Regions from separate parts of the Homo sapiens genome. Here all the other regions are linked to region 1. The links come from fine-mapping of genetic effects on gene expression. A gene starts in region 1. Each other region holds a variant in brackets. All regions are shown on one strand. Distances are between the middles of the regions.

Region 1 (5,258 bases):
CTTTCCAAAGAGGGCTTTCGGAACTCAGTATTCTAGAGGAGAGCATGCAGGAGTGAAAAATGGCGGGAGGGAAGTAGGCAGTGAGGCAAATGGTTACATTCTCTTGAGTACCTTTTCTGATAGCATAGAATTACTGATTAGCAAAAATGTTGTACGTTCACAAAAGAGTAATCAAAACAATGAGGAAACCTGAAATTATGAGAACTAGCTGAAGAAACTGGGGACTAGGAAAAATAAATAAATGGTGGCGAGGGAGTTGGGGGAAGGACTGTTGAAAGGGAGAGATTATCCATGTAAAAGTGAAGAAAAATGCACTAATGAATGGTTAAAAATAGAGGAAGATTAACTTCAACTTAAAATAGGAACTTTTAATGAGACCTATATAAATGTGGAATGAGGTACTCAATGGAAGTGTTTCCCATCACTGGAGATGAAAAAGCACAGGCTGGACAATCCACTCAGCAGGAATGTTTTAGGATAAACTGAATGTCAGATGGGAAGTAGGACTAGAAGCCTCTTAGATTCTTCCAGCACAACGTCTCTAAGGCTCTAAAATATCTGTCTTGCTCCAAATCACTGCAGCACCTGCTCCTATTGACACTGCCAAGGGGAGAAAGAAGAAAAAGATGTATTCTTGTAAGCCTGTCATCAGAGTACATGTCCTGTGGAAACAAGGCTGTAGAGAGTAAGCACAGTTTATGGAATCAGACACAAAATTAAATATAACTTTTATGAATTTAAATGTCAGTCAATATTGTCACTATGGTAGAAAATACGTTCTACATTCCAAATTAACTCAAAACAAATTTGTTTTTATGAGAGAGCCCACTTGTATTACCTTCCGTGCTGTATTATTATTTCATGTATGCTTGGTTTTGCTTCCCTGAAATCTAAACTCATGTAAACTGAGACTATTGTTTAGGGGTTTTTTTGTTTTTGTTTTTTTTTTGAGATGGAGTTTTGCTCTTGTTGCCCAGGCGGAGTGCAAAGGTGCGATCTCAGCTCACTGCAACCTCCACCTCCTGGGTTCAAGTGATTCTCCTGCCTCAGCCTCCCTAGTAGCTGGGATTACAGGCGCCCGCCACCACGCCCAGTATTTTGCGTATTTTTCGTAGAGACGGGGTTTCACCATGCTGGCCAGGCTGGTCTCGAACCCCTAACCTTCGGTGATCCGCCCGTCTCGGCTTCCCAAAGTGCTGGGATTACAGGCGTGAGCCACCGCGCCCAACACTGTTTACGTTTTTGCATGCTCCCGCAGATCTTTATCATGCTGCTTGAGTAACAATTCTGCTACACTAACAGATAAACTAACTGCAGACAGAGCATTTAGTGAGTTACGGCACAGACTCTTCAATTTTCAGTCGTGCTCTGACTGGCTCCCTGTGTAAACTCAGGCCAGTCATTTAACCTCTCTAAGCCTGTTTTCCTATCTGCAATATGGTGAAAGTGAGGATTATAGAAAATATTCCATATAAAAGTACGTGGCACGCAGCAGATGCTCAGTAAATGCTTAGTATAACGCTCAGCACCTAAGTGCCATGTGAGTATTAAATAAACAAATCTGTTCCTTACTACAATTATCTTAGGCAAAAAAAAACCTGCCAGATATTAGTATTCAGTTGACTTAAGTAAGTAGTATAACTCCTCTTTTAACTGTCAGAATATTAAAACTACTAGTGTGATGTGCAAATTATATACCCGAAACTAGATACAGAAATTGGAATTTGGCTTTGGGACAGAAATCTGCTTCTTCCAGAACTCTCCAAAGGAATTCAACAGTCAAAAGAGACCGGTTTTTATTCTGCAGCAAAACAATGATATTCTGAACCTACGTCAACTAACTGAACATGTCACACAGCCCATTTCCCCCTCCAGTTTCGCTTATCTCCTTTGCTCTCTGAAGGCAAGGAACAGCTATGCTTTCCCCTGCCTACAGCCTGAAACTTCTTACTAGGCCCCGCTCCTCGCCCCATGGGAGCACAGTAAATCCTGACTGCACGGGGTAAGAGAAGCAATAAGATGAGACAGGCTAGAGATTTCCCTGGGAAGGTATTCGGGGGGGTCTAAGGCATTCACGGCGCACCTGAGGCGGTCCACCCAGAGGCCCCACAAGGCACCGCCCTATTCAACTTAAGTGACAGCCGCGCCGCCACCTCATCGCCGCCCAGTTCACGCTCTCGCCGAACACTCAGCCACGCTTGCGCGGCCCAAAATGAACAGCCCCGGCCCCGATCCTTTCTTTCTCTAAGTACCATTTCAATCGCCTTTAGGATCCCTTGTGCAAAACCGACAGAAATCCAAACCCACCTGGAGCAGATGCTCCTCTTCTACAAACGCCGAGGCTGCAATGAGAGCGCATGCGCCTTTCCCAGGACTCATTCACGTGACTGGAAGTGGCTGGGTTCTGATTTGCTCGGTATTTGATTAAAAGGTCTTAACGTGGGTAAAAGCGGGAATTTCTCTGTTGCGCATGTGCGCGCTCTCCGCCTGATAGGAGTTGTAGTTCTGCGGGTGAAGCTCGGCGTTACTATCAAGCAACCAAACTGCAAGCTTTGGGAGTTGTTCGCTGTCCCTGCCCTGCTCTGCTAGGGAGAGAACGCCAGAGGGAGGCGGCTGGCCCGGCGGCAGGCTCTCAGAACCGCTACCGGCGATGCTACTGCTGTGGGTGTCGGTGGTCGCAGCCTTGGCGCTGGCGGTACTGGCCCCCGGAGCAGGGGAGCAGAGGCGGAGAGCAGCCAAAGCGCCCAATGTGGTGCTGGTCGTGAGCGACTCCTTCGTAAGTACCGCGAGGCAGGGGAGGGGCGCCCCGCTGGGGATCGGCGACCTCACCGCCGCCGCCTGTGCTGCAGGCTTTGGGGAGCAGAACCTGAGACATTTTCAAACACCTTTTACCCCGATGCAAAGAAAGAAATACATTTTATGTGAGGCCCCGTGTACTCACACGTACACCACATACCTATGCAAACATGTAAAACAATAGTGAAACACTGAAAACATCTTTGCAGATCTTTTTTTTTTAATACTGACCTCGATTCGCTAAATTATTTTACCACGACTAATGAACTTTCAGTCCATACCCCCGTTTGGTTTAATTGTGTGGTAAAATAACATTCTGCATCTCCATAAAAGCGTGTTAGCTTTCCAAAAGTCATTTTCCAGTTCACCTCAAGTTTGCAGGAATTCATGTTTGGGTGAGAAGTGAAGAAAGTTTATTTTTATTACCCAGGTCTGTGATAATCCTGTTAGTGCTGATTCAAATGGAATCGTTGGTATAACTTGATTCACTCCCCCGTATTCCAGAGAAATTGTGTGTATGTGTGTGTGTTGGTAATGTGGCTGAATCCCAAACTTAAACAGTTTTTGAAACTTTCCCAAGCCAAAGGTGCTACTGTCAACCTTACGCGATGCTTTTAGGATGATCCATGTTTTAAAAAGTGCTGCTTAGACAATTGTTTGGTTATTAATTGTAATATTAGTTTATTATCACTCGGTGTTACTGTGGTCACACAGATGTTGGTGTTAAGCATATCTGGCACTAAAGAGTGTTTGTAATCATATGTTGTATTTCCTTTCTCGTAGATTCCTGATGATTAAAATTACATAGTCTGGATGTGCCCATGGGATTTTTTGAAAATATTACTTAAAGTTATCTTTGTGATTTAAACTTAGAGAATGGGCAGTACTGGAAATTGACTAGATGGCATTTTATTACAGAGTGCTCTTGTAATCAAAGGCAAATGAAGGAAGCAGGATTGTGCAGAGGAGAAGCTGAATTTTGTTGCCATCTTATGAATGACAGTTCTCAAACTAGTATGGTGCTTCAGAGCTGCTTTCCAATAGGAGTGAGGAGAACAGACCTTTCCACCTGCATGTTGGATGGCCACTGGTTGTGGGCTGCTCCTAGAATGGGGCATGGTGTTGGGCAAAGCAGCTGTCTTCAGCAGAGGCAATTGTTCATTCCTAAAAGGGAATCCGAATGTGGATCACAACATCCCAGAAACTTCCAAAGATGACTGAGATATATAGGTTTGTTATTTTTTTTAGTGTAGTATGAATGCATAGATTTTTCTATATTTGTGCTTAAATTTTTTGCATTCACGGCCGGGCGCGGTGGCTCACGCCTGTAATCCCAGCACTTTGGGAGGCCGAGGTGGGCGGATCACGAGGTCAAGAGATCAAGACCATCCTGGCTAACACAGTGAAACCCCGTCTCTACTAAAAATACAAAAAAATTAGCCGGGCGTGGTTTCGGGCGCCTGTAGTCCCAGCTACTCGGGAGGCTGAAGCAGGAGAATGGCGTGAACCTGGGAGGCGGAGCTTGCAGTGACCTGATATCGCACCACTGCACTCCAGCCTGGGCGACGGAGCGAGAGTCCGTCTCGAAAAAAAAATAAAAATAAAAATAAAAAAATTTTTAAAAAATAAAAAATAAAAAAAATTTTTGCATTCACATACTTGTTAATATTCAAACTGTCCTATCTTTGGCCAGTGGAAGCCCCTTCAGGTGGTTCTGAGTCCTTTTGACCCATCCCCATTAGTATTTGACAGCTTGCTTTAACAGAGTTCCATGTCCACAATACATATTTCCTGTCCCATCTTGTATTTAGAGACCACAGTCTGAGTGTTAGGGTGTTCATTGCATCTAGACCTTTCCAGTGGACAAATCTAGAAAGTATATAATATTTTAGAATGAGAAAAATAAATTGTGAGATCATACTGATACTTTCCATTCAAATTTAAGATTACAAGTTTATTCTTTGATTTTTATACTTATATCTTTTTTGTTTTATGCCAAATATTTTGGTCTAAATGCATTAATGCAATTACTTATTTGCTTTATCCAAACATATAATATGTATATATCAATGTGTTTGAAAATAAGACTGTAATATTACTAGAAATAATGCTAGTCCTGAGTGCAGCTTACAGTTTCTTTGAAGTTTTTGTTTTAGGTATATTCAACTATATAGTAAAAATGTTGGTCTTTAAACTTAAAATAATTCCTCTCTCTATGATTATACCAGTTTGGTATGCTGTTAGATTCTTGACACTGTGATTTATCATTTCTAAAACTCTGCAGGCTAAGATAGAGCAGTTAAGCTGGATAATAATTGTAGGAAGAAAATAGCAAATTGGTTTTACTTTCAGGATAACAACGCAAGAGCTTTGTAGATCAACTCCCAAGAAAACAAGCAAACCAAATGAAAACTCTTTTTTAAACTATACATAAAAACTATTAAATATTTGAAACACTTAAA
Region 2 (5,258 bases), 32 kb before region 1:
CCCAAACCTAAAATCAGGTAAGTTTGTCACTGTTATTAAAACATATAAAATAAACACTTAAAATGAACTTCAAATAAAGTTATTGGTGTTATTTTAAAGCACTTTCCAGAAAATAAAACTTAACGGTGTGTTATAAAATTATCTTAAAGCATGATCCTACATTCACTCAATAAGAAATTCAAATGGAAGAATTCTGTTGGAGTAAACATGCACTAGAAGTTATAAAAAAGTTATCTACAGAACCCAAGAATTTCCTTGACTTTGGGCAAGTTACTTACCTGCTAAAACTTTGGCTACAAAAAATGTGGATATTATCTATATGTTACTCTCCATGATATTACTACTTATTAACTATTGTGAAACAAGATATGATCTTTTTATATTAAAATCTGTATAGCAAGCTATACTATAAGAATTAAATGAAATAGTGATTACCTAAAGTTCCTAGTAAAGATTTCTTAAATGTGAGTTCTCCTTCTCTTGAGGAAAGAGTTTTACAAAATTAAAAAAAAAGTTTCAAGCCCTAAGTTATATGTCATATACAATATACTATTTATGTGCTCACTTCAGCAGCACATATACCAAAACCGGAATGATAAAAAGAAGATTAGCATGGCTACTGAGCAAGGATGACACAAAAATTCATAAAGCATTCCTTAAGAAAAACAAACAGAAAAAAAAAACCAGTTTCTTTAAAAAGGAGAAAGAAGGAAATGGAAGAAAGTAAGCATATATAATGAGCTCCCAGCTTTTTTAATACAATCATTACAAATGTAGGTTATATATGGATGGTGGTATTTTATTTTATATTACCAAAAATAACTTAGATAACTACAAAACAATGCAAGTTGTCTCTGAAGTTTAAAAAAAATTTAATGAGCTTGTATAACTTACAAAGTAATTAAAGGTATTAAGATATTCTGGAGACATGATGAATTAATTATCAAAATGTAAGAGTAGGGAAACATGTTTTAGAGATCAATTTTTAGATCTAATAGTTATCATACTGTTTGTCTAAAAGTTAAATCTCTGTCACATTACTATTTATTAACTTGTGAAACAAGATTTGATCTTTTTATATTCAAATTTATATAAGCTATACTGTAAGAGGTTCATATGGATGCTTGCTGTTGACTAAAGAAGTCCTTTTCAAGTTATTCAATACATTTAGGCAGGAAATCTACTCAAGGATTTTATACTTCAGGATCATAAAAGTCAAAGGAGCTACTAAAAATAAATTACCTTTTAAAGCAGGCACATAATCTTCTTTCTTTTTAATGATCATCTGGTATTGAGCTACAGCCTCCTTATATTTGCCTAGGATTTGCTGTATTGCTGCAACCTTAAACACACTGTATATGGATTCTGGGTTCAGCTCACTGGCTTTTGTGAAGGACTTCAAGGCTGTTGTGTAGCCTCCTCTGCTTAAGTATGCTTCTCCTAACGATTCCCAACAATTGAAGTCCTTTGGGTCTGCTCTTAATGCTGCCTGTAAACTAAAATTTAAAAAACCGTAAGAGAACTAAAAGTATGGAACTATCTCCAAATCTGAAAGGAAAATATAAAATAAATAATTCAAGTAAACATATATATCTGTGGCTCCTTCTACTTATAAAAGTGCTATTTAAAGCAGATAAATTTGTTCCTTTTATGATTTTTTTAATGCTAAGAAATGTTATTTTAATTTCAGAATAAGAATAAAATGCTTTTTTTGAAAAAGTGCTGAACAAAATTTCTTTTCCTTGATTATCTTGAAGAACTCGAGTTTTCTATCCTACCAGGACAGGTGTCCATCTCAGTTTGTCACATCAGCCCATAATCCCCCACCAGCAATCCTTTTACCAAACAGAAATACCACAGTTAAAATATGGAAACAATAGGCATGCTTTAAATATCTGATCAAATTCCATTTCCGTGAAAATGCCTGTACTCTAGATACTAACATAAACCAGAAACAATTTTATTTTGATTCAAATACATTTATTTACATTTAAGTACTGTTCAAATCAAATGACTCAAATTGATCATATATGAGCTGCTCCCAATGCCCTTTAAGCT[G/A]CCAAATGTCTCCCTTGCCAAAAACAATGTGTGTCAGCAGAACAACAAAGATATGTACCTCAGCTTCTCATCACTAAAATTTCTATTGAGAACTACTATACATATGTATTAAGACTTCAATTCACTAATCTGGCTATCTCCTCAACAACAGGACACCATTTAATCCATCTCTGCAATTCCACTGCCCTGCAAACAATAAACACCAATCAATCATAAAGTAATTTTGTTATTTCTTCTCTCAAAATACAACCTGGTAAGAGACAATTAAAATGCTTAATTTAAGGAACCGTTATGCTTGTCTAACATAGTTTAAATACAATAAGGTGCCTTACTCAGCCACTGCTTGAGAATGCTGACCAGCTTTCAAATAGTATAGTCCTCGCCTAAGCCAGGCCCATTTTGCCGTTCCAGCACTTGCCTTTTGAGTTACTGTTGTTAGGATAGCTAAAGCCATTTCCTAATAATAAGAAAATACTAATATTAGATATATTGAACATTATAAAAAGACAGAACGCTCATGTAAAGTACACAAACATATTTTCATTTCTCACTTCTGATTTTTTAAACTTACACTGGTATACATCAAATTACAGTTTCAACAATAAGTGGTTAGTAATTTAATATCTGCCAATGGAAAAAAACTTCACTTACAGAGGCAAAAATATTTATATTGCACCTATAGAAAAAAAACTAATGATAACTTTCAAGTATACATATATAAAAATATTTTCATTTATATACTCAGGATAAAAAAAACAAAAAGCAAAAGTGATTATTAGACATACCATATCTTCAAGCTCCACACTTAGGTCAACTGCTGCAGCTCCAGATTCAGCATCAGTGTCATCTAATTCAAAGGCTTTCCTATAACATCCACGAGCTCTGTTTTTATCTCCCACTACGTCTCTATAATAATGACCTAAATAGCAGAAAACTTTGCCCATATATGTATCCAGTCTTGCAGCCTTTGAAATAAATATTGATAATAACAGAACATTAAAAGTTCATTTAATGAGTATCTTTACAAATACAGAAGATAAATACACAGATTAAAGAAAAAAGAAATAATTTCATTAAACATACAAAAATATGCCAAAAAATCCTTTGATGTAAGATTTAAAACAGACAGGAAAGCTGTCCCTCACTGCTTATAGAAAGTAAAAGGAAATATAAAAATATTTTGTTTTTTGGTAAAGGAAATGTGAAATTAGAGCTGCTACTGAATTAATCTGCTCTTACAAGTCAAGATAAGAATGTAGGACTTATAGATGTTAAACATCTAAAAAAACAGGAATTTAAACATCTAACTTGTATGCTCATAAAACTACAGTGAAAATTACCTTAAAAGTATTGTTTACAAGAGATAATTATGTCTCGTTTTCTACAACACATGCTTTTCAAAAAGTAACTTTCACATTTTATGTTTTAATTTTTTCCTTGAAAACCCATATAACACCATCACAAAACCTGACATATGAAAGATAAAGCACAAAAAACAGTTCAGTAAAGAGTAATTGTAACTAATGTATATGATTATTATTTATGATTTTATAATGCCATTTCAACTAGGAATTGAATTGTAGCACTTGCTTTACCTTCAGAAAGTGGGTAAGAGCCTTTGTTTTATCTTTTCTTGTCTCTTCACCCATGAACCAGTATGTTAATCCAAGTTGGTAATGATATTCTGCAACTTCGGTATCTTTCTCAAGAGCTCTCTGAAAACTAAGCCACCAAAGGGTAATAAAAAGAAATAGTAAAACAAATACACACACACCCACACGCAATATAGGAGACTCCTAGTTGGAACAATCAAAGTTTGAGTGATTCAGAGGTGCCAAATTAGAAACCAATCATCACTTTAGGATTTATATTATCATAAGGAAAAAAGTGATTTGTTTTTGAAGAAGAGGATCTTAAAAAAGCACAGTGGCCTTTTAGCACTACCATGTGCTAAGTGTTCAGACTATACTGAACATTACATCTGCTTAGTGAACATTATGATCAGCTGATTAGATTTTTTTTTTTATTTTTTGAGTCCGAGTCTTGCTCTGTCATCCAGGCTGGAGTACAGTGGAATGGTCCTGGCTCACTGCAACCTCCACCCCCCAGGTTCAAGCAATTCTCGTGCCTCAGCCTCCTGAGAAGCAGGGACTACAGGCATGTGCCACCACGCCCAGCTACTTTTTGTATTTTTAGTAGAGATGGGGTTTCATCGTGTTGCCCAGGCTGGTCTTGAATTCCTGCGCTCAAGAGATCACCTGCCTTGGCCTCCCAAAGTACTGAGATTACAGGTGTGAGCCACCACGCCCGGCCAAGATCAGCTAATTAGATTTGAAACCCATCATATAATTTTTTATAGCTACTGTACTACATGCTAAATACATTTCTTTAAAATACTAAAACTTAAAGCCTACAAAGATCAAATTCATGAAAAATCAAATCTTCATCAAGCCTACTCATTTTGAATTTTTCAGAAATATAAAGAACTAAGATGTAAATGGTTCTATGAGCAATTTATATATCCTTACCATTTTTCTGCTTGTAGATAGTCCTTTTTGGTGAAATGAATCAAAGCCTCAAGGGCATGAACTTCAGCTAGGTCAGGGTAAGAAGAGAGAAGGTCTTCCATAATCTATAAAGTAGACACCTGTCAATTCTATAGCCAAATAAAAATGCTTTTAACTCAAAAAATGCTCAGTTTGAATAAAAAAGCCAACCTTTGCAGCTTCATCAAATGAACCTTTGTTCCGATAGGCCAAGCTTTTGAGAACCAAAAGTCCTGGGATATTATCTGCATCAGAAATCTAGAAAATAATTGTAAAGAACTGCTATAAATCTCCTTCAACACAACCACAGCAATGTTTGCTTTAATTAACGAACGAACACAGAAAAGCATGGTCCTAATAGAATAAAGAAATAGAGGTCCTGATTTCTATCACTAATAACACATCTTCACTCTTCATAACCTTTTTATTAAGGAAAATCTCATATACATAAAAAAATTACAGAAACTAGTATAATAAACCCACATGTACCCATCATCCAGCTACAAAACCACAAACTCACAAGCAATCATTTTTTTCATCTATACCTCCACTAATTTTACCACACTTCTGCTCAGATGATTTTGACACAAATCCCAGATATTGTAACTTTTTACCTGTAATACTTCAGTATCTATATCTAAAAGTTCATTTCTA
Region 3 (5,258 bases), 69 kb after region 1:
CGGAAGCGGCTGGGCTCTCTGTGCTGCGCGCCGCAGGGAGGCGCGGAGGACGAGGAGGGGCCCCGGGGCCACCAGGCGCTCTACCGCCAACGCTGGCCCCACCCTCATTATCACCATGCTCGGCGGGAACCGCTGGACGAGGGCGGCTTGCGCCCACCCCCTCCGCGCCCCAGACCCCTGCCTTGCTCCTGCGAAAGTGCCTTCTAGGTGCTTGGTGGTCAGAGACGGGTCATCTGTCGCTAAGGCGCAACCTCCAGGGAACTCGAGGCCTGCCAGGGTCTGTCCAGATCACAAGGGGCAGGAGAGTCTGTGAGAGAGTGACACTGAAGTTGTCCCCTTCCTCCACTCTCCTATTCCCTTCTCATGTTTACATTTCCCTATGCTCTTCCAGTTTCTCTTCTTCCCTACAGTTCCTCTCATATCTCCCCATTTGGAGACAGTGAGCCACTGGAAAGTTGTAAAAACAAAAACAGTTATTTTTGCAGTTTTCTTTCACGCATTTATAGTGCTCTGGATAATGCCATTTATTTTTGCTGATTACCCAACTTTCAGTATTTGCTGTGTTATCATCTGTATTTACTTATTTTGAATCGTGCTTAAATCAAATGTACCTTCAGCACCTGCAAGTTTGCCTTTTCTTTCCAGGAGGAAAATCCCCACGTTGCTCTCCCTGGGGAGTCTGAGAATTATACCAGTGCTGTCAGAAATGTAATCATGCTGTCATTTCAGAGCCACAGAGTATTTATAAAATAAAAACCTTTCCCACGGAGCAATTGGGACTTTTTTTTTTTTAACATAGTAATGTATTTTCTCAGAAGAAAATCAGCGTGGCCTTTATTTCCAGTCTAGTTTCCACTTCAACAGAAGCTGAGGTTGTAGGAAGGAAACAAAAGCTTGACTTGGTGTCTTTCAAATATACTTGGTTTCTGTTGGAAATCGTCCCTGTGCCCCCAGCAGCCTCTAAAGGTGTAATGCTATGCCCAGATGGAGCCTCTCCGTACAAAGTCCCCAGCAAACCAGAGAAAGGAAGCTTCAAGGTGGTGCATATGGGTGGGGCTCAGTGTCCCAGATGGAGCCTCAAAGAGATTTGCAGCTAGGAAGGAAGTCAAAACCTCAGAATGCTGCATGTGTATATAAAACTCCCTTGTTAAAAAAATGAATTCAATGCCTGTTGGTGTGGATAGCTGAGAACAAGGTCAAGAGCGGATTTGATCAGTAACCTCTTCCTCTCAACTGTTCTTGGTTCTAGACAGAAGTGGCAGCACTTATGAACAATATATCCATGGGTTTATCAGTGATTTTTGTATGAGGATCTAAAGCTTTCCATTATAGTGTTTCTTGTTCATGCACAAATGCAGACCTAAGATGCAGAAAGGGGAAATGATTGTTTAAAGCTCTTTGTAGAGCCAATGCTGAGGGCTGTTTTGTTCACTAATATATTCCAAATGCTTAAACAATGCTTGACATGTAGTAGGCTCTCAATATATATTTGTTGAACAATTCATCATGTGAGTTAGAGATAGAACAAATAAAAGATATACGAAAGAAAATCTTTACTAAGCTTTCTTTACCTTCCTCCAAAATTTTGACAGCAGATGTTCCAGAGTTGTAGCTTTTCCTTCCTCTCTTTGTTCCTCCTTACCCTGTTGAGGATGCAATGGTCTGCAAAATACCAGGAATAAATCAGCCAAAGAGAGGATACAGTTGTCTTCATGAACCCAAGTCTAGATTATACCATTATTTATTCATTAATAAACATTTATTACCTGCTTATTTTGTGCCAGTTAATAAGCTAGGCATTGGAGATGCTGAGATGAATAAGTCACATTTTTCCCTCAAAGACGTTATAGTCAAATGTAGGAAACAATCTGACAATTACACTGCAGTGTCACCTGTGTTATAACAGGGGAATTCAGTCAGGGTGCCAGAAGAACTGAAGAGGAGAATCTGACAATCTTGGGGGACTATGAGGGGACATTAGGAAAGACTCACCAAAAGAAGCTCTTGAAGGCTGGTTTGGGGGTGACCCTTCAGGTCAGGAAAGGTGTTCTAGGCAACGGGAATAGCACTGCAAAGCATAGAAGAGACAGAACATAGCATAGTCAAGTAATGACAATAGCTTTAGGGTGCCTTTGGGGCCTGACCTAATGAGATACGTGGTCAGAGAAATTCAGCCTGGCCCCAGTGAAGACAGGTCTGTGTGCCAAGCCAAGAAAGCAAAAAGTAGCCTTTGAAGAATTTAATCAGTTATAATTTGACCCAATTTCAATTTTAGAAAGGTCATCTCAATGATGGCATGAAGGATCACCAAATGGAAGGGTAGGGGGGAATTCTTAGATGAGAAATCAAGGCAGAATCTCAGAGAGTCTTCAGAATACGATTCCTAATGTTGGACCACTTCGAATGCGCTCAAGAGAGATAATAAATTTAAAGCAGCTGAGACAGGTTTTCTGTTTTCTGCAGTTAAGACTACCCTAACAGAAAAGCTTACTCAGCTGGCTTCAACTTATTATTTCACATGACAAGAAGTCTGGTGGTAGGGCTGTGCCAGGGTTGGTTAAGTAAGTAGCTCAACTTCATAATCAAGGGCTGTGACGGTTAATTT[T/C]ATGTGTCAACTTGACTGGGTTAAGGGATGCTCAGATAGCTGGTAAAACATCATTTCTGGGTGTGCCTGTGAGGGTGTTTCCAGAAGAAATTAACATTCAAATCGTAGACTGAGTGAAGAAGATCAATCCTCACCAGAGGTGGCAAGCATCATCCCATCTGTTGAGGGCCCACCCAAATAGAACAAAAAGACAAAGGAAATGTGAATCCTCTCTCTCTCTTCTTGGGCTGCGACACCCATCTTCTCTTGTCCTTGGACAGTTCACTTCTGTTCTTGGGCCTTCAAACTCCAGGATTTATACCAGCAGCACAAACCCCCACAGCCCCCATTCTCAGGCCTTCAGACTCAGACTAAATTTTACCACCAGCTTTCCTGGTTCTCCAGCTTGCAGACAGTATATGGTAGGACTTTTGGGCCTTCATGGTCACGTGAGCCAATTCCCGTAATACATCTCCTCTTATATATCTATATAAATGCTATTGGTTCTGTTTTTCTGGAGCAGCCTCACTCATACAAGGGCTCAGATCCTTTTCCTCTTTCCAGTCTGCCATCTTGAGTGGTGGACTTGACACTCAGGCCAGTTCCCCTTGAGGTCACAAAATGGCTGCTGCAATTCCAGGCATCACATTCAAATGTAACAATGTCCAGAAGAAGAAGGATTTCTCTTTTTTGTACCCTTTATAGAAATGAAACAACATGTCTCAGAAGTCCCCAGTAGACTCTCCTAAATGGCTCATTTGCCAGAACTATATCACATGTCCATATTTAGACCTATCATTGCAAGAGAAATGGGGCCACCATGATTGGCTTGAACATGGAACTGAGCATATGAATTGTATTGAGGGAGGGATGAAAAAACTGAGGCTCTACAGTAAAGAAAGAAGAGGAAATGCTAGTTAAAAAGGCAAGAATAAAACTTTTAAACTATTGCAAAAGTGTTATCTAGATTGGTTTTTACAATACAACAGGGGTATTCAGCTCATTGTTACCTAGAAATTTTGAGAATTCTTCATCTGGGTTGGAAATATAGAATACCAACTCAAGAAGTTAATTTGAAATCCGATTAAACTGATGTTTTCCTAGATTTTGTAGATTTAGTTAAGCCCAATTTATACGGAAATGCTTCTCTTCTTTAAGCAAGGAATTTCCTCTAATTTTAACCATATCTGAAACTTGAATACATAACTAGATGACTTGGTTCCCATCCCTGGAGGCATTTGTAGGTTAGGAAATTTGAGATATTTCCTCAGGATGGCCATCCTATTTGTGTTGACCCTAATCTGCATTTCTAGAGGCAACACAGAGATTCAGCTGTGTCCTAGTCAAGGAGGCCCCTGAAGGTTATTCAGATTTAGACTCTTGCTAGAGTAGAACATAATATTCACATCACACAGCAAAGGCAAATACACAGGTTGACCCCGAAATTGCTCTCTTTTCTAGGTTATCACCCAAATAGGAAACGACTAGAAGAGAAACCAGATCTACACACTTGCAGTTTGGAAGAAATCAAAGTTGCCCTATAAAATAGAGACAAACCATTCCTCTATTCTCTACATTTTTTGGAGTTAGATTTTAACCAAACTACTGCACACAGGACTTCAGGGAGCACTTTTCATATTGATGAAGATGTGAACATCACCAGCAGAACTGAGCAATGTGGTGGTCCTGATTTTATAGAACTTTAAAGACTAAATGCAAAGAATTCTACATCTTAAAGAAAAACCTCAGTAACATAAGGCCAAAATAAGTAAATGTGACTTATGTTGTAATTTGAAATGCAAAGAATGCAGAAAACATCCAGGAGTAATAAACCACACTAGTGATTAGTTATAAACAATATTCAAAAAATAGAATAGTCTGGCTTATCTTGTGGAAGACAGATTTAAAGCATTTTTTTCTAAGGTATGTCCTAAGAAACACAGAAGATGTTAGAAAATTTGAGGAGTTTGCCTTCTATTCCTAAAAATGTTCTGACTTGATCAAAGGGAAAATATTCTAATAAAAATGAATTGTTCTTCTTAAATTAAAATATATTTTGCTGAGTTGGGAGGCAATATAATATTATGAAAAGAGTAGAATATTCAGAGTCTAAAGACCTGAACTTGACTTTCATCTGTACAGTTAGTAGCTGTGTGACTTCAGGCGGTTTGCTGAATATTTTTGAGTCTTGGTTTTCTCATCAAGAAAATAGGAGTTAATACTATGTCCTTCATAGGATAATGTACGCAAAATATTTGATTGGGTGGAGGTAAGGGGAATCTAGGTTTGTTTCTTCAGATTCCCTCAATACATGATAGCTAATGTTATTTTCTAATACTGGCTATGAGGGATAAAAATCCAATTGAATAATATTACATGAAGGAAAGCAATAGATCTTGGAGAATTGTCATGGAAAATTAATGCAGCAATGGTAGTACTTAAAAGTAGGGAGTTGGGCCTTACAGAAGGAGTAGTGGGCATTGTTCATTGCCTTCCTAGCATTTATTTCTCCTTTTCTGACAGTTCTCAGATTCTTATTAGAATGTCTATACCTTTTATAAAAAGTCAGCACTTTGAGGAAACCTCGGTGCTCTCCAACTCCAAGACTGTGACTTGATTAGTCCATGCCACTGGAGTAATTTCTCATCCCTCTCGCCACCATATCTCGCTCAGG
Region 4 (5,258 bases), 99 kb before region 1:
GGAAGTGGGAGTGAAAAGAGGCAGTGGTCTTAATCAATGGCATTCATCAATTATGTTTAAAATGTCTTACTTCTGTAAATATGACAATGATCTTGTAAATACATGGCTAGAGCTCACGCAAGCAGGAGCCCCTGAAGCTTAAGAGCCATTGTTTCACAGTAAATTCACCTCTGTTCAAGGAACCAGTGGAGCACTGGGCCTCCCTCCCCTTGCATTTATTTTGACAGAAATCCAAAAAGATAAATAAAACTATCCTCCTAAAGAAGCTCAATATACATGGCACTTTATTCCATATCAAACAATATTACTTAATCCTTTGGGAAATGTCAGACTTCTCTTCCCACAAATATAGGATGATTGAGCACTGGAGAATCTGCAATCCAGATCCACGCTACAGACTTGAGGCATATGTTAAAATATGCTCAGGTAGTTTTTACTTTAAGTACAAACACCATTTAAACAGTCTTGAATAGTTAAGGGTCCTACTGCCCTTAAATTTCCTGTTGTTTCCTTCCTATTATCAACACCTGCTCTTAGAAAACATAGGAGAAAAGCCCCTTGACATTAGTTTTGACAATGACTTTTTGGATATAACACCAAAAGCACAGGCAACAAAAGTAAACAAGTGAGATTACATCAAATTAAAAAGTTTCTGCACAGCAAAGGAAACAATCAGCAAAATGAAAGAACCTATGAAATGGGAGAAAATATTTGCAAACCATATATCTGATGGGGAACTAGTATCCAAAAACATATAAGGAACTCAACAACTCAATAGCCAAAAACACAAATAACCTGATAAAAAAAATGGGCAAAGGACCTGAATAGATGTTTTTCCAAGAAGATATACAAATAGCCAACAGATATATAAAAACTCAAATGATAACAGGTGTTGGTGAGGATGTAGAGAAAAGGGAACCCTCGTGCACTGTATGTGGGACAATAAATTGGTACAGCCATTAGGGAAAACAATATGGAGGCTGTTCAAAAAAACTAAAAATAAAACTATCACATGATCCTGCAATCCCACTTCTGGAAAATAAAGTGAAAACAGTATGTCAAAGAGATATTTGCACCCTATGTTCACTGCAGCATTATTCACAATAGCCAAGATGCGGAAACCACCTGACAGAAGAATGGATAAACTGTCATCTATGTATATACATATATATATAATTCAGGTTTACAGAAGAAAGAAATCTTGCCATTTGCGACAACATGAGTGAACTTAGAGGGCATTATGCTAAGTGAAATAAGCTAGGTACAAAAAGCTAAATACTGCACAAACTCACTTACATGTGGAATCTCTTTAGAAATAAATGAAGAATAGAACAGTAGTTGCCAGAACTCATAGAAATAAACAGAGAATAGAACAGTAGTTGCCAGGGGCTGGGAGCCGAGGCAAATGGAAGATTTCAGTCAAAGGATACAAACTTTAAAGTTAAAATGAATAAATTCTGGAGATCTAATGTACAGCATGTGGATCATACTTAATAATGTACTGTCTATTTGAAATTTGCTGAGAGATCTTCAGTGTTCTTACCACACACACAAAAATGGTAACTATGTGAGGTGATACGTTAATTAGCTTGATTGAGGTATCACAGTGTATATTAAAACCCACAATGTACATCTTACATATGTAGAATAAAAAATTTTAAACTTGCTCTTTGGGGAAAAATCATATGAAATTATTCATACTGAGGACTAGATGGTCATGTTCAAAGTGTTTTACTTCTGCACTAAAAATTAAGGACAAATCCCTCCCCTTCTGCCACACAGGTAACTGCTTTCTCAGCCCCATTGTGAGGCATATATGCTTGCCATCTGGTAGTCAGGACAGCAGCAAGGCCCAAGACTTTGGTCAAAGAAACAGCATTCCCAGAGTACTCTAGACACCAGCAGCCCTCCCGTCTTCTAATTTTCCAAACATAGACTCCCTTCCATTGGCTTCACCCATAGTAGCAGCAAGTAGCATCCCAAAACACCAAGAAGGAAAAATTTGATCTATAGTACACACACACACACACACACACACACACACACAGTGCACATTGTTGCCTTACAAAAGGGATCTCCAAAGTTTTTGTGAAGTATT[A/T]CTATTTCTATCTTTCCAGCTTCCATACATCCATGGGCTAGCCACTGTGGATACAATATTGAACAACCTAAACACAAACCCTGCCTTCAGGGAATTTATAGTTTAGTGGAAAAGACCAACAATTAAAATCACAAATACATGGGAAAGTAGAGTGTAATGGGAGAGCCAGAGAGAGGAAACACATTCCCTGTGTTTACCAGAAACACAGGGAATCAGGCAGAGGGGTCTTCCAGAAGAAGGAGTATCTAAATTGAGACCTCCAATGTATAAGCAGACATAAGTCAAGGGAAAGAGGCTTGATTGGTAGAGGTGAGGGCTCAGGCAGATTGATCAGCCTGAGCAAAGGCCTGGAGGCCAAAAGAGAATGGGGATATATGCCAGAAATTGCAAGAAGCTCAATAAGTGTAGGTCAGAGCCTATGCTGTGTGTTAGGGGAGGTGAGTAGTGAGAGAGAAGGCTGGAGAAGTTAGGGAAAGTGGGGTGTCTAATCACAAAAGACTTTGTAACTCATATTGAGAAACTTGGGCTTTATCTTAAGGATCCAGAGTAGCCTTTAAAAGATCTTAAATAGGAGAGTGACAGATTTGCATTTTATAGAAAGATCCCTCTGGCTGCAGTGTAGAGAATACATTAGATGCAGTGTGGGAAGCAAATTTGGGTGGGAAAGGAGGGAAATAATACAGCAGAGAGGGGATAATGAGATGTTTTAAACTAATTGATTTTGAGGCATCTATGGGACATCCAAATGGAGATGTCCAGTGGTTAGTGAGAGAGCTGGGCCTGGAGCATGAGAGAAAGATCTGAACTGGGGATTTAGCTTTGGAAGTCACCAGCAGAGAAATGGTTACTGGAATTACTGGGGAGGAAGGCATTGCCTTGGTTAGGTGGGATAGGGGTTGGGGACATGAAGACTACAGTGAGAAGTAGAGACCAAGAACAACCTAACACTGAAGACACCTAACACTGAAAGAACAGCAGAAGAGTCCTGGGCGAGTATGGGGAGACGTGCAGCAGTAAAGTAGGAGAGGGAGTGTAATCATTTGAAGGTTTCAGTGTTCCTTGGGAGTTCCTGCTGGCAGACGGTGTCAGTAATCAACTTGAAGTTCTACTAGTATTACTTCAAGACCCACCATTAGTTTTCCATTTATCAAAGAGGACCCCAACCTACAGTGTAAACTTGACAAGGTATATTATGCAACACAGTGAAGAATAGTTACAAATGCTTTCTTGAGTCTCCTTCCATGCCATAAAATAAACATGCTGCATCTTCTCCAATGCAGAGAGGGTGGGGAGCCCTCCTTGAGAGAGGAAGGATGGTTGCCAGGAAAAACATTAGGCTGTTTTGGCCTCTACCTAATTAGGCATTTCCCTCTTCAGATTAGAGTTACACACACTTGTGTTAAGGGTTTAATATTATGTCAAATCGTTCCCTTGATATACAGTTATAAAAATGTGACTCCATAGACTAAATTTCCATAACTCTCTGTTCTTTTGTAGAGTTTTGCTACTTCCTTTCAGAAGATATTTACAAATACAAATGTGATGTTTACAAATCAGAAATCATTGATGAACTCAGCACTACGTCATAAACCAGGTCTTCCTCAACAGTCTCAAAAGATGCACTGAGAAAAGAGAAAAATAACCCAAACTTCTATGCTGAGAAGTCTTGAAGGGTCTTGTGGCCTAACAAGCCAGAGTTTAAACCCAGTGCCACCATTCATTAGCAGTGTGACTTTGGATATATTCCTTAATTTCAGAATCTCAATTTCCTTATCTTAAAATGGGGATAACAATACCTATCTTGTAGGCTACTGAGGCATTAGAAAAAACATTTATTGAGCTATCATCAGATATTAGAGATAGCTCAAAGTACTTTCCATAGATTAATGCATTTAATCTACCAGATGCCTATTACCGAGGCACAGAGAGGTTAGATAACTTATGTAAGGTCATATTGCCAGTAAAAGATAGAGCAAGGATTTGAACTCACAAGAACAGAGAACTTGTTCTTAAACATTATGCTACACTGTTTCTCTAAATATATGTAAACCATCTAATACTAGTGTCTGATACATAACAGGCACTGTACTTGATAAATGGTATTAATACAAGTAAACAGAGCTTTTTATCTTTATGGGAAAAGAAAGACAAGTTCCATGGTGCACTGGCATACAACTCTGATTCAGATTAGTATCTAAAAATACTTGAGCTTAAAAAAGATTCTTTTACTATGTATGAGAAGAAATACCTTGGCTTGCAATAATTCTAGCAATGGACAAAAGCAGAGGGAAGTACAAAATATAGATTTCTCCTGCAACAAACTATAATGTGGAACTATTCCTCTATTTTAAAAGCATTTCTTTCAATTGTCTCTGGAGAAGGAGGCTAACAGCTGAAGCAACATTATGGGCATTGACTGGAGGTGCACAAGATGCTGATGCTACTGTCCAGTGAAGGATGTTTCCTCCAAAAGTCCTGGCCATCAAAGCAAACCCAATAGCCATTACAGCCAGGTAAAAGCCATTAGTACTCATCTAGTAGGTCCTTCTACAAAAAAGTAATGCACTGTGTTCATAAGGCAAACATTCAGGGATAGACTTCAAATGGAGTGGGGCCTACATGGTACTGGACAAACCCCCTCCCCTACAACCCAAAATGACTCTTATACTAAAGAATCCGTGTAGTCTCTAGGCCAAAATTCTATCACATAGCACTTAACAGCTTCGAAGTATTCATAATACCAACATTAAATATTCAAAAAATGCAGGAATGGATGGATGGATAGGTAGAGGAAGAAAGAAAAGAATGAATGAATGAACATATACACACCCATGAGATTTTACCAACTATCTTCTCTGCGGGGATTAGTTGATAAAGAAAAAAAAAGTAAGGTCCTTTGTACCTTAACATGGGATGGCCAAAAGAAAGTTGAACTCTGGGAAGACAGGTTAGAAAAAGCCAAAGAGAAAACCAAGGGGCGGCATTTGTGATGTTATCAAGGATTAAATGATTAAATGAAACAATAAGCTCACTTCAGCCGGCTTATATCAACTTCAAAACGTAACAAGAGTGGAGTATTCTATTCTCTATCATTACATAGGCTTAAATTTGCAAAGTTAATCCTCGGGAGGAGGTTCCCTTCTTCCCAAGTTTCCTCCTA

Direction of the effects. Positions count from the first base shown, and alleles are read on the strand shown. Sizes are in standard deviations (SD) of each study's normalised expression. Not every link is listed here.
With allele A in place of T in region 4, the expression in cerebral cortex of the gene that starts at base 2,349 in region 1 is higher (moderate effect, 0.56 SD a copy in GTEx).

Evidence for each region. PIP is the estimated chance that this variant, and not a neighbour inherited with it, causes the effect.
Region 2: its variant is fine-mapped to the expression of SKIC3 in whole blood (INTERVAL, PIP 0.96).
Region 3: its variant is fine-mapped to the expression of SKIC3 in sun-exposed skin (GTEx, PIP 0.95).
Region 4: its variant is fine-mapped to the expression of SKIC3 in cerebral cortex (GTEx, PIP 0.96). The same link has a PIP of 0.9 or more in caudate.

What each region holds. Positions count from the first base shown.
Region 1 is chr5:95,552,629-95,557,886 of GRCh38, forward strand. It overlaps SKIC3 (SKI3 subunit of superkiller complex), which reads right to left and starts at 2,349. Exons shown (of 43, transcript NM_014639.4): 1 at 2,308-2,349. ARSK (arylsulfatase family member K) reads left to right here and starts at 2,473. Exons shown (of 8, transcript NM_198150.3): 1 at 2,473-2,776. The coding sequence starts at 2,651.
Region 2 is chr5:95,520,812-95,526,069 of GRCh38, forward strand. It overlaps SKIC3 (SKI3 subunit of superkiller complex), which reads right to left. Exons shown (of 43, transcript NM_014639.4): 14 at 4,776-4,862; 15 at 4,587-4,690; 16 at 3,654-3,780; 17 at 2,844-3,023; 18 at 2,391-2,515; 19 at 1,243-1,496; 20 at 1-7. It also overlaps the pseudogene RNU6-308P. Among named protein-coding and RNA genes, the nearest start is that of SKIC3, 32 kb to the right of the region's middle. The variant G/A (reference allele first, on the strand shown) is at 2,059.
Region 3 is chr5:95,621,374-95,626,631 of GRCh38, forward strand. It overlaps GPR150 (G protein-coupled receptor 150), which reads left to right. Exons shown (of 1, transcript NM_199243.3): 1 at 1-769. The coding sequence ends at 207. LOC112267933 (a long non-coding RNA gene) reads right to left here. Exons shown (of 3, transcript XR_002956221.2): 2 at 1,993-2,068; 3 at 1,480-1,662. Among named protein-coding and RNA genes, the nearest start is that of GPR150, 3.9 kb to the left of the region's middle. RefSeq lists silencers at 1-64, 285-344 and an enhancer at 82-581. The variant T/C (reference allele first, on the strand shown) is at 2,606.
Region 4 is chr5:95,453,357-95,458,614 of GRCh38, forward strand. No RefSeq gene overlaps it. Among named protein-coding and RNA genes, the nearest start is that of FAM81B, 65 kb to the left of the region's middle. The variant A/T (reference allele first, on the strand shown) is at 2,099.